Homo sapiens: one gene and its partner. The protein of the gene in region 1 interacts with the protein of each later gene in a pairwise test. Each region holds a gene or a part of one and is shown on either strand. Other genes may lie near its edges.

Region 1 (6,539 bases):
CCACCCCACCGTCCCACACATTGCTGTGGCCCCAACCTCGGTGCCATGTTACACCGGCCCCTGGCGTCACCCACTAGGCAGGCTGCTGCTTTCAGCCTCAGCCCCTGGCCCAGCCCCAGCAGGCCCTCAGCCTGGAAGAGGCCCCTTGGGCCTAAGCCTCGGGTGGGAGCTCAGGGCCACCTGTGACGTCTGCATCTTCTTGGAGAGAGAATAAAGTTTGTATTTAAGTGGTCTCTGCCTATGTGGGAAGGACTCTGGGACTCCAGGGCTCTGGGAGGAACCCTTGGGCAGCCAACCCCCAGTGCAAGCAGGAAGGGCGAGCGTGTGGTCCCCGGCCTGTACCCAGTCCAGGTTTCAGGCTGGCATTCCTAGCCCTGAGCTGGGCAATGGGTGGTGTCAGGTGTCGTGGCAGAAATGACTGGGGCTGTTTCTGTGACTGGGCCAGGAAAACTCTTTTCCTTCTCCAGCCCCACGCCTTTGCCTGTTGCCCCCCAACCCAGGCTGGGACAGTGAGGCACACACAGGTTGGGCTGGAACATTTATTTTACACGGAGCCGGGGGAGTGGGGGCCAGGGGGCAGGGGCAGCAGCCTTCCCGGGCAGGCCTCCCCCGGCTGCGGCAGCTGCACCTACTGGATCAGCTTGAAGGACTCCCCCGTCATCATGGCCACAAACTCTGGGAACAGAGGGGCAGGTCAGCAGCTTGCCCCGGCCCAGCCAACGGCTCCCAGGGCTCCAGGCCACTCACCCTCATAGTCGATGGTCCTGTCCCCATCCTTGTCGGCCTCCTTCATCATCTGCTCCGCCTCCACCTCGTTGAGGGGCTCCCCTGCGTTCATTAGCACGTACCTACGGGGCCTGGCGCTGAGCCACTCCATCGGCCCTGCCCGTGCCCGCCCACCACCCGCCCCCAACCCGGGCCCTACTTGAGTGTGTTCCAGTCAATGTAGCCCTTGCCCTCTTTGTCAAAGACACGGAATGCCGCCCTCAGCTCGCTCTCCTGGTTCTGGGCCTTCTCATGGTAAACTCCCATTAGTGCCAGGAAACCATCGCAGTTGAAGAACCCTTTGTCTGCAAGGGGCACAGCTGGGGCTCAAGGGATGGGGCACAGCACTCCCCATGGGCTTTGCCTCTTCCCCCCGTAGGCACTGACACCTGACCCAGGGCCCCCCCGAGGCTGCCCACCCCACTCCAGCCATGAGCTCACTGTCTCTGTCCACATCCTTGGCCATTGAGGCCAGCTCACTCTTGGTGGGGTTGATACCCAGCAGGCTCATGAGCCACTCCAGCTCCCCCGTCTTCACCTCCCCGTTGCCCTCTTCGTCGAACATCTCAAAGACTCCCTTGTACTCCTTGATCTGCTCAGCCGACAGGCGCTCTGTCTGCAGGGGACACCCGCACCGGCCTGACCAGGAGCCCCTTCTGCCCCTGTGTCCAGGGAAGGGTCAGAGGTACCCCCTGCACCCATTCCTCCATTGGCAGCCTTTCAAGGTGAGTGGTAAGAGAGGAGGCCCCCAGCGGAGAGCAGGCTTCCAGGACAAGGGGTCACACGCCAGGGGTTTGCAGGGCCAGCAGGGCTCTGCCAGGCAGCTAACAGGGGCAAGGGCCAGACAGGCAGGAGCCAGCGTGCGAGGGAACAGCAGCAGCTGCAGGGCCAGGCGGGCCAGGCAGCGGCCCTGGAGCCTGGCAATGGACACCAGGTGAGGCAGGTGAAGGAAGCCGAGAGCAGGGTGGGGAGGAGCCCAGCCCTGGCCCGGGAAAGGCTTCCAGCCCAGGATTGGGATACAGCCCAGGAAGCAGAACCCTGGGCTCCAGCCTGTGTGGCATTCCGGAGGGAGAGTCCAGCACCGGGCCACACCTGCCTGCCACCACTGCTGCTGCCCATCTGGGAGCCAGCTTTCAGAAAGGGCTGCTCCACCCTGGCCCCGGAACAAGGGCTGTGTTGGTGGCAGCAGGGCTTGGCCCCCTCTTCTACCTCAGCCCCTTCCTGCCCAGGCTCCGTGGCAGGTCATTGCACCTCCAGGTTCCAGCTCAACCTACCCAGCCAGCCCACCAGAGACTCCATCGGGCACAGAGAGCAGCCTTACCATGTCGGTGGTTGTCTGACAGGATTCTGCAGGGTGGTGACACCAGGGCTGCTGTGGGCAGAGTGCTGGGGCAGTGGTGGCAGCTGAGTTTTAGCTGGGCCTGGCTGCCTGGGGTCCCCGGGGTCCAGATTCCAAGAGCCTTTTATGGGTGGGAAATCCTGCCGGCCCTATTTTGGGACAGGCTCTCGGCCTTATCCACAGGGCCCCTTCCCGGCCCGCTTTGGCCTGGGCTTCCCCTGACCCTGAAGATGGGCACCGAAGGCTAAGTGCGGGGGCCAGGAAAGGGCTGAGACATGGCGGGACCCTCACACACGCTGTTCCCCGTGCTGTTCCCTCTTCACTGGACCAAGCTCCAAGTCTACCTTCCCAGAGGTGCGGCCCTCCAGCAGGTCTTCATGGGACCCTGGTCCCATGCTGTCATCACTTACCAGTGAGATTTCTTGTTGAAGACCCATCCTGGCCAGCTGGTGCTCAGTGGCTCAGAGCCTGGCCACCCTCCCATCCTGGTGGACTCAACATTGGCCCCGTGCCAGCATGTCACAAACTCTCAGGACAGGTCGAATGAACAAATGCATGAGGCACCGCTTGACCATCTTGTACAGGAGGGGCTGAGGGTCCACCATTCAGGGAGGAGACAGCAGGACATGGGCTGGGGGTGAAGGGGGAAAGGGAGCAAAACAGGGCCTGGGGGCTGGGCTGCCCGCTGGAAGCCAGGCACAGTTGGGGGCTATTTTGGGGTTTCTCAGGGAAACCTGATCTCCCTTCCACTCAGAACAGCAAAGCTGGCTCCCGAGGGGGCCTGGTGCCCAGGCTGGTCCGTATCAACATGCCACCGTGGAGCACACGCCTGCACACGTGTGTTCCCTCCTCAGACCCGCACTGAGCCCTCCCTGTCTGGGTCTAATTACCCACCAGACTCCCAAAGCCAGGGTCCAGCTCCTCCCTGCCCCACCCAGGCAAGAGTGTGAGGATTGCAGTGGCAGGTCAGGGCCCTCAGGGTCACACTCACACCTGCCCCCCGACTGGCCCCTTGATGGCATGAAGAGTCTGAGCAGGTGGGGCACTCAGTGTCCCCCGCCAGCCCAACCCTCTGCCTGCCAGCAAACCTGCAGCTACAGGATGGCTCCCGCTGAAACCCAGGCCAGCTGCTGAGACTGCAAGATTGACGCTGACGAGGGCAGGCCAATGGCCCAGGGCACCTCCAGCCAAACGGGAGCCGGGGCTGGAGGGAAGCGGCCCTGGGTCTGGTGGGGCCAAGGGAGGCCCTGACCTTCATCCTGGCTGCTCCCTGGCCTCAGCTTTCCCCTGGGCTGGGGCAGGGAACAATTCACGCACTGAGCACCTTCCCCCAGGGGCATAGAATGGAGGGAGCCGCAGCACCCAGGCCAGGGCCCATCCTGGGTTCTGGCTCAGGGTCTCCAGGTACAGGCCAGCTGGGTACAGAGACACAGAGAACTGCACTGGCCTCGTGGCCCTGGACAAGTCCCCACCCCAACAACTCTCACAGCCAGTGGACAGCAGGCTCTGCCTCCTCCGTTCCCAGGCTTCCAGCGTCTGACATTCCTGGGCCACAGCCCTGAAGGTTCCAGACATCCTGATGGGCTTACGAGTGAAACTCAAAGCTGTGACCCCTGGAGCCCAACTTAAAGCAGAGGGCACACCCCCCGCCCCGCCCGTAGGAAGGGGCAACATGGCCACAACCACCATCAACCTCTCTCCTCTCCATCTAGGCTTCTACCCATATCCAAGACCCAGTACAAGCAGCAGAACAGGTCCTCGCCCTCTAACCCTCTCTCCTCATGCTGACCAGCCTCTGTGTGGCCTTCGGACATACCCCGTATCTCTAGGACCTGAGACTCATCCAATCTTTATTTTCCTTCTTGTGTCTCTTCTGATCACCGAAGGGCTATTCTCCATAAGAAAACAGAAAAAGAGGCTGGGCACGGTGGCTCACGCCTGTAATCCCAGCACTTTGGGAGGCTGAGGCGGGCAGATCACGAGGTCAGGAGATCGAGACCATCCTGGCTAACACAGTGAAACCCCGACTGTACTAAAAAAAATACAAAAAAATTAGCCAGGCGTGGTGGTAGACACCTGTAGTCCCAGCTTCTCCGGAGGCTGAGGCAGGAGAATGGCGTGAACCCAGGAGGCAGACCTTGCAGTGAGGCGAGATCGCGCCACTGCACTCCAGCCTGGGCAACAGAGCGAGACTCCATCTCAAAAAAAAAAAAGAAAAGAAAAGAAAACAGAAAAAGAGAAAAACCCTGTAACAATTAGAATGCTGCCTCAGCCACGTTCAGGTGCAAGTGCAGTTGTGTTCATGGCCGTACCCAGTTATGCAGCAGATCTCTAGAACCTTTCACCTTGCAAAACGGACCCCCGCCCCCATTAAACAGCATCTGCCCTCTTCCACCACCCCCCGCCCCCCAGCCTATGGCAATCACTATTCTACTTTCTGTTTTTAAGAATTCGACTCCGGGGGCCGGGTGTGGTGGCTCACGCCTGTAATCCCAGCACTTTGGGAGGCCGAGGTGGGTGGATCACAAGGTCAGGAGTTCAAGACCAGCCTGGCCAAGATGGTTACACCCTGTTTCTACTAAAAAAAATAAAAAAATAAAAAAATTAGCCGGGCGTGGTGGCAGGTGCCTGTAATCCCAGCTACTCAGGAGGCTGAGGCAGAGAATTGCTTGAACCTGGGAGGTGGAGGATGCAGTGAGCCGAGATTGCGCCACTGCACCCCAGCCCGGGTGACAGAGTGAGACTCCATCTCCAAAAAAAAAAAAAAGAATTCGACTTTTTTTTTTTTTTTTTTTTTGAGGCAGAGTCCCGCTCTATCTCCAGGCTGGAGTGCAGTGGCGCGATCTCAGCTCACTGCAACCTCTGCCTCCCAGGTCAAGCAATTCTCTTGCCTCAGCCTCCCGAGTAGCTGGGACTACAGGCACCCACCACCAAGTCCGGCTAATTTTTTATACTTTTACTAGAGACGGGGTTTCACCGTGTTAGCCAGGATCGTCTCGATCTCCTTACCTTGTGATCCGCCCACCTGGGCCTCACAAAGTGCTGAGATTACAGGCATGAGCCACCGCACTCGGCCTGGAATAGGCGTCTTTTTTAAGGCTGAGTAAAATGTTATTCTCGGGATGGACCACACTCGGTTTATCCACCATCTGCTGATGAACACTTAGGTGCTCCCACCTCTTGGCTGTTGGAACTGCTGCTGCAATGAATATGGGCGGGCATGAAGGTGTTTCATAGATGTGATTAGTATTTAAATCAGTAGGCCGGGCATGGTGGCTCATGCCTGTAATCCCAGCACTTTGGGGGACCGAGGCAGGGAGATCACAAGGTCAGGAGATCGAGACCATCCTGGCTAACATGGTGAAATGCCGTCTCTACTAAAAATAAAAATAAAAAAATTAGCTGGGCATGGTGGTGCGCGCCTGTAGTCCCAGCTACTTGGGAGACTGAGGCAGGAGAATGGCGTGAACCCCAAGGAGGCAGAGCTTGCAGTGAGCCGAGATCGTGCCACTGCACTCCAGCCTGAGAGACAGAGCGAGACTCCACCTCAAAAAAAAAAAGAAAAAGTATTTAAATCAGTAGACTTTGGGTAAAGCACATGACCCTCCATAATGTAGGGGGGGGCCGCATCCAGTTAGTTGAGGACCTTAAGAGAAAAGACTGAGGTCCCCCAAGGAAGAAGGAATTCTGCCTCCAGACGGCTGCAACATCAGCTCTTCCCTGGAGGTTGCCTACAGTGCAATCACACGGGCCAATTCCTCAAAATCTCTCTCGTCTGTGTATATGACAGACGTATATATACAGACATACACACATATACACATCCCCCTGCTTCTACCACAGAGGGTCACCGCAGACATCACCACTGCCACTGAGGGTCTCCAGTGAGAAGACACTGAGAGACCCCGCCCCACTCCAGGGCAGCAGCCTCAGCTGCAAACCCACCCCACCTGAGCCACATGACACAAGGTGGTCATTGTGTCCACAGGCAGGACTCTGATGGTCCCTGCAGGTGGTCTAGGACCCCTTCTGTCTGGTTCTGCTTCCCCCTTCCTGTCACAGGGGCTGACCCCTAACAGGGAGCTCCTATCCCAAACTCCATCTCAGGGTCAGCTTCTGGGGAGCCCCAGCTGTGACATGATGGATGTTGGCGGTGGACCCCCCGCTGCCAAGCTGCAACCAGGCACCAGTGCGGGACGAAGACACAAGCCCCTGCACAGTCACCTGTTACACTCACTGGTGGTGTGTTGGAAGGGCAGAGGGATGGACCAGGTAACTGCCACCAATCGAGGCTACAAATGGTAGAAGGAGAGAAAGGGGCACTTGAAAGCCAGGGGTGAGCCCAAGTGTGAGCGTCGGGGGCCCTCTGTGGTTCAGGCAGCATCTCTGCTCTCCACTCTGCAGTGGGAGGGCAGCGATTCGGAGGACCAAGCCC
Region 2 (7,034 bases), on another chromosome or scaffold:
CACCTGGGTCTCCCAAAGTGCTGGGATTACAGGAGTGAGCCACCATGCCCAACAAGGGTCTTAATGAAACATTCCACAGGGAAGCATTATTAACATTTCTCAGCTTCTCTGTGTGTGACGGGATGGGAGGCTGGGGGTGTCAGGGTGGAAGCTGGAATCCCTAGAAATAGAGTGGAAGACCTGATGAACAAAACAATGGCTTTGTCAAGATTTCTGTGGCTGTTCTTTTTTTACTCAAGGCTAATAAAAATATTCAGGACAATTTTAATTTAATAAATTACTTGTGCAAACCCTAAGTGGAATTTGGACAGGTTTAAAAGAAATTAGGTTGTATCCAGAAAATGAGAAATGTAATAGCATGGAAAATGTGGAAAGGAAACTTAGGTTTTCTCTGAAGAAGCTCTGTGATTCTGCACAAGATTCATCGTTGGACACTCAGTCCCCTATTTTAAAATGACCACTTTGAATGAAATGACAACGATGCCCTTCTCTGATTCCCTGAATTCTAAGTGGAACTATAAAAACGACAGCCTTTCTCAAGGTCAACCGTCCTTAAGCAGGCTGACATCAACTCAAGGAAGGGCAGAGCCACCATGTTCAGTGGCATAGGTTGTTCACAGCACAACTCCAGGCAGTGCTGTTGGCACAGACCACAGTGTCAACGGCACCTCTGGGGTTGTAAGGTGCTTCACTGCCACAAACACTCATGGTAAAGAAGACTTTAGAATTTCTATTTATATTTGTGTAGGATCTAAGATCAATTTAAAAATTAGGTTTCATTCATAGCTAATATCTGGATTGATAATGACATCATCACTTGGTGGGTAGGAAAGAGTAGGAGTCCCACAATGGGAGATTGTCCCAGACACACTGCCTGTTGACTTGCTCTCAGAATATCATCATGTGATACCTTGCAGTTCCTTATGTTCCATTAAGAGGATTTACAGATTATACAATCTACCTTTAACTAAACTAATCTTCCCACAGTAGGTAAGTGGCTTTTAAAATGTCCTATATAGTCACAGGCCACAACATAGATGAACCTTGAAGACATTATGCTAAGTAAAATAAGCCAGTCACAAAAAGACAAATACTGTATGATTCCACGCACAGGAGGTACCAAAAGTAGTCAAACTGATAGAGGTAAGAAATAGAATGGGTTTGCCAGAGGATAGGGGCGGGGTAATGGAGAGTGGTTGTTGAATGGGTGCAGAGTCTTGGCTTTGAAAGATGAACAAGTTCTGTGGACCCGTTTCACGACAGTGTAAATGTAATTAATACCGCTGAACTGTACACTTAAAAGTGGTTAAAATAGTAAATCATATATATATTATTTACTATATATTTAATATATATTTCAATTAAATATATATTCAGATTTAATTGAAAAATTCTGCATTAAATCATAGACTGAAAATAATACTAACACCATCAGCACAAACACCAAGGAAACGATAGAAGCACTAACTAAACCTTCTTTTCTTAGGATGTCTTCATGGGCACCAATACAAGCTTAAAAACCTCAGCCATCAAATTAGACTCAAAAAGAAGTACAGTTACCAAAAAGTCTATTGGAATTACAGATTTCCTTACCCTTCCTTTAATGATTAACTCTTACTATATTGGCATATTCGCATGTATACATAATTGTAAAATAAATAAAAATTTGTTGTGTATACATGGTCAAATTTTTTCCCTATTAAGGTACACTATCAAAAACTTGGGAGTATTGATATCCTTAGTCATTGTGGACACTATTCCATAGTTCTGTTATGGATCTGCAGGAAGATTGAAAAGATAGTTCCCAAAACATTGATATGCTAAAACAGACAGTTGTTGTTAGAGCAACCACAATTGTGGAAAGTCATAGAAGGCAAGAGGATAAAATCACGTCAAGTCACCCTTATTGTTTTAAGGAGAAGATCTCACTATGGCATAATGGTTTGAAGTTTTGCTTGTTGCTATTTCCACCTAAAACTCTCTGGAAGATGCAGAGTTATGATCTGTAAAGGAAGGCTCCACACCATCGCCCGTCTTGGACATGGGCAGACTTGTGGCAGCACCAGTGTCTGTGTGTATGCTGTCACCCCTCAGAGATGAGGAGACCAGCACCCAGGATGCTGTCACACAGCCACACTCAGCTCAAAATTTGACCCATTCATTGCATCAGAGATTTCTCTGCATAACAAAAAAAAAACTGTGAGAAAATTTACAATTTGAAAAAGAAAACCCTAAATACAATTAGTCATTTTGCTGGGTACAAGAAAAAAAAAAGTGATATTTCTCTAACAACTCCTAACGAAACAGTGGCTATTATTTAATAAAGAAATTGCACACAGTAGTTCCCCCTTAACCTTCCTTGGTTTCACTTTCTGAGGTTTGAGTTACCTGCTGCTAACCACAGTCCAAAAATATTCAATGGAAAATCCCAGAAATAAACAATTCATAAGTTGCAAATTGCACACTCTACTGAGTAGCGTTATGAAACCGCTTGCTGTCTAAGAACATGAATCATTCATCTGCCCAGCGTATCCACACTGTCTACACTACCTGCCCGTAGCCACTTAGCAGCACTTTCAGGTATTATCGGATGGAAAAAGCATAGCATGTGTAGGATTCGGTACCACCCACACTTTCAGCCATTCACCGGGCATCTGAAGATAAGGGGGAGCTACTGTACATAAGAATCATAAATTTTAAAGCAGGTGTAACCTTTTAACTAGGTTTTTTTTTAAAATACTAGAACTTAACCACCTGATGAACAGATGCTTGTATTGTTTTTTAGAAAAAAAAAAAAGATCTTGAAAAAAAAGGAAGAAATTATATTATTTCTCCCTCTTGTGTTTCTGTGTTTCCTTGTTATATTTTTACTCTTATTTGATTAAGACACATGTTAATGGGTCTTGTTAACTTCTGGAGTCCTTTTCTCAGAGGTCATATAAAATTAAAATAACCATTACTTCATTCGATTATTGACCAAAGCACAGATGTGGTGCTACGGGAACAGATGACTGTGTCTTTTGTCATGCCACTATACCACAGACTTGGATTGTTATACCAGGAATAGCGTGATCTCAAGCCAATCTGGATCCCATTTTGCTATCAAACCGTCGTAAATAATATTTAACATTCAAAAGTTGTCTTTTGAACTACGAGGAAGAGGTCTGACTCGTGTATGGCTGGAGACGTTTTAGTCTCATCCAAGTCCAAGACTGTCCTAAAATGGAGGGCAGAAACCTTGAAGAGAGGGACTCCCCTGCTCTCTATTCTAGCTCCTTTGTGAGGAAAATTGCCTTATTTGAATGGTTGGAACAGTTCACAGCTTTTGCTTCCTTGCCCTTAAATGTTCAATTTGTGGATGATTACCTTCCTGCTTTATGAGTCTAATTTGTCTTCCTTTCATTTATAAAATGGCAGGTTAAGAGTAAAATATAAAATAATGGCATTTAGTGGGTGATTGATTTTTCTACTGGCAATGTCATAAATATGGGCCAAGTGTTTCCCTTCCAGAAATGGAATGAGCAGTAAATTCAGTGAGATTCTGAAGCATAAATTCAGAGCTCTTTGTGAGGCATAAACAATATACAAGCAGACCCATGCCTGGAATGTGTGGCTTATGCTAAATTGTTCATGTAGAATGGCCCCAACATGAATGTGGCATTTATAGGTTTGAGCCATTGATGACTGTGGCAAGCTTGCTTTGTTTGTGGCACAAAACAATCCATTATCGAACATTCCCATATCTATACCCCAAAGGCCCTTGTGCCAGGTGACTGGAAAACGTTTCTGTATTCATTGTTCACATTGCACCTCATTTGAAAAATGGGAAGAAGAATGGTAAATAGTTCATCCCTGGGGATGATAGGAAAGCAGAGCTCCTATCAGATTAATCACATGGGGATATGGACGTGCAATTCAGTTTCGAACTCCCCAAGAAAAGAAATTTGAATCCATCCCTTTTTGCATATAAATTTTCATATATTCCTATTTCAAATATAAATTTACTAAAATATTTAAATATTCAAATATCAATTATTTATTTTAATTAATATTATGAGTATGCTATTAAGAATTAATTTTAGATGATAATTAAATTATTTCCTTGCAATAATATGGAACTTGCTTTCCGCGTGCTAGATGTTTACCTTCAACAATATGCCAGAGTTTACAACTGGGCTGATGGAGATTGGGCACTGGGGCTATATTACTACAGATCTGCTTAGACTCTCTCTTATTCTCTTCTAATCACAGTCAAATTGGTTTTCTGTTTCAATACAGCAAACCACTTTCCAAGGTATTCACAGGCTCTGCCTCTCTGGCTACAGTCTCTTTTGCTTGAGTTTCATTGAGCTTATCTGAAGTGAGCTAGTCTCAATGGAGACAACAGGGAAACATAGGATATTAGAATTCTACGTCCCTTGCTCCGTTCCCATATTTTCCCTGACATTTTCCCAAATGTCAAGAGGTCCTTCTGTTGAGATCCTTCTTATTTTTTCTCATTTTCTTTTACTGTCATGAGAGCACTTATGTTGCGTATATAACAATGCACCCATTTCCCACATAAAAGGATTTACATGGCAAACACAGGTTTCAAACCAGGAGTAAAGAACAAAAGATGGAATACAACTTTCCCAAATGTATCCCAACCACAAGCCTCAACATTTAGAGAAGAGGGTGCCTGGCCTATTGATTACAGCAACTGATAAATCCACATCCCAAAACTTATTTATTCATTCAGTAACTGGACATTTACCAAGTGCCCAACCAGCAGTCAGACTTGTGAATGACATAAAATTGTCCCTTTTGGGAAGTTCACAGTCTGGGATGCTTCTAATCAATACTATGCAGCCTATAATACTTTAACAGCAGGATATTTAATGTTGTGTTTCATAAAAATATCATTAAATATAACATAAACCTGTATGCATGCATCCCCTAAAATTCTTCTTTTCTCCCAGTATGAAGACCTTTCTAGAAAGTCATTTTAAATTAATGAAAAGCCCCAGGCTTAGGTCCTGATATTATCTGTGCGTCCAAATAGTTCAATGTGTCCAGTGGTCTAAGAACAGAAGGACCATAGACAAATTGTGAATGCCTTCCCCCGATCACATCTCTAATGAAACACTGAGAGTAGAAATTAGAATTTTAAAAAATAACGCAGGTTGGGTGCGGTGGCTCACACCTGTAATCCCAGCACTTTGGGAGGCCAAGGCGGGCGGATCACCTGAGGTCAGGAGTTCGAGACCAGTCAGACCAATATGGTGAAGCCCTGTCTCTACTAAAACTACAAAAATTAGCTGGGCGTGGTGGTAGGAGCCTATAGTCCCAGCTACTCAGGAGGCTGAGACAGGAGAATTGCTTGAACCTGGGAGGCAGAGGTTGCAGTGAGCCAAGATCGCGCTACTGCACTCCAGCCTGGGCAAGAGAGAGAGACTCCATCTCAAATAAATAAGTAAATAAATAACACAAAGAATGTGCTCATCATAAGTTTAAGAAACTTTCCATTACAAAAACATGTTTTCTTTTCATCTTGATCGTACTACTTCACTAAACCTTTAATAAAATCAATAATGAGTCATTTATTTTCTTTTTGAAAAAAAAATATACATCTTGCATTGTGTCATTCTTAAAATTCAAAAGAGAAAACCTGAGACTTTTTAACCCCACAGCATTTCTTCATAGAATGCATGACTGGGGAAACAAGTTTTATGGCAACTCTTAACAATCATCGGCCCTGGGAAACACATATTCCTGCTTAATTTTGACCTCTTCTCTATTAGGAAAAGTTGAACTTCAAACCCAGATTGTAACTGGTGACTATGTGGACTTAATATCCCCAATTAGAGGAAAGAGTATCTTTCATGGTGTTGTCCAACGAAACTAAAACTGATCTTGCTTGATCTGTCAGAGTCCTTGCTGCAGGTACACCCTCAAATGGGGTTATAATTACATAAGAAGTTGAATTGTCATTTGACCTTTGTTGCTGGGTTTTGCAGACCATTTGCAAAACCCACATTTTATGCAGTCACCCTCAGAATCTGTGCTTAACAACTGGTCTAAAATATACAGCTCCTTACAAATCTAATCAGCCACCCATTAGCATCTGTTTGAGTTTACCCTTACGTTGTAAGAAGCTCAAAGCCATAATCTTTCTCTTCTTAGGATCTGTTTCGTTTTAACCTTAGTCCCTCCACTGGGCAATCGTGAGAGTCAACTATGTAAGCCCCAAACCACTGTTGTATGTATGATATTTTAAAATCAGTGGCAAAACATTTTTTTAATTCATGTTTTTTCTATGTCCTCACCTCACGAGTTAACTGCATGTAGCCTCCCGTTTGCAATCTCTGTCAAGAAAAATGCCATTTACAGCTTTCTTCTTCCTTTAGAGATTATTGTACGTTTTAACGTATACATTAAGTTCGACATGGATTCTGTTTGGGTGCTAAGAACAGACATGTGTATCTAAAGATTTACCCTTAAATGTCCTTGATGTTTTTCAAACCATGCCTTTGATGGGCATCGCCTTGCCCTGCGGCCAATGTCTAGACGAAAGAAAGAGCCACAGCCCTTGTACTGAGTTGCACTTTCCCATCCACGCCAAAGCAAGAAAAAAGCCCAGCCCATGACCGTGAAACTCGGGGTTACGAAGAGGCTTTTCCCAAAGGGGTCTCAAGTCCAATTAATAGCTGTCATTTGATTACGTGACCTGGAACGTCTCCAACCCGCACCCTAAACAGGGCAAGGGCGTCACGTTTTTAAATTCACGCTCAGATGTTTGTCCTTATGCCTTCCAACCTTGCCCCTAGCTCTCCTAAATGAGTTCTTTTGAAAAGCAACTTAAAAATAGACACCTAAAGGAGAACGTGGGACTGACTGTCATTATTCCAGGAACTCTTTTTTCAAAAGCTCTATGAAGTGGCTGAACAAAGGTAGTCATTTTTCTTGTGCCTGGGTGAGTACGATGAGGGAGAAAGAATGCACCTTGTAAACTGAGGCTGTGATGGTTAAGATTTCTGATCCAGCTGATAGACTTA

What was found.
Region 2: the proteins of CALML6 (region 1) and PCP4 interact in binary tests that used the Homo sapiens proteins (3 or more experiments, as listed by UniProt).

What each region holds. Positions count from the first base shown.
Region 1 is NC_000001.11:1,911,283-1,917,821, reverse strand, and holds CALML6 (calmodulin-like protein 6), read right to left. Parts: upstream 2,563-6,539; 5' UTR 2,542-2,562; coding exon 2,515-2,541; coding exon of another isoform or gene 2,449-2,514; intron 2,138-2,448; coding exon 2,087-2,137; intron 1,382-2,086; coding exon 1,207-1,381; intron 1,071-1,206; coding exon 926-1,070; intron 849-925; coding exon 748-848; intron 676-747; coding exon 629-675; 3' UTR 526-628; downstream 1-525.
Region 2 is NC_000021.9:39,870,425-39,877,458, reverse strand, and holds part of PCP4 (calmodulin regulator protein PCP4), read right to left. Parts: intron 1-7,034. UniProt on the Homo sapiens protein: Functions as a modulator of calcium-binding by calmodulin. Thereby, regulates calmodulin activity and the different processes it controls.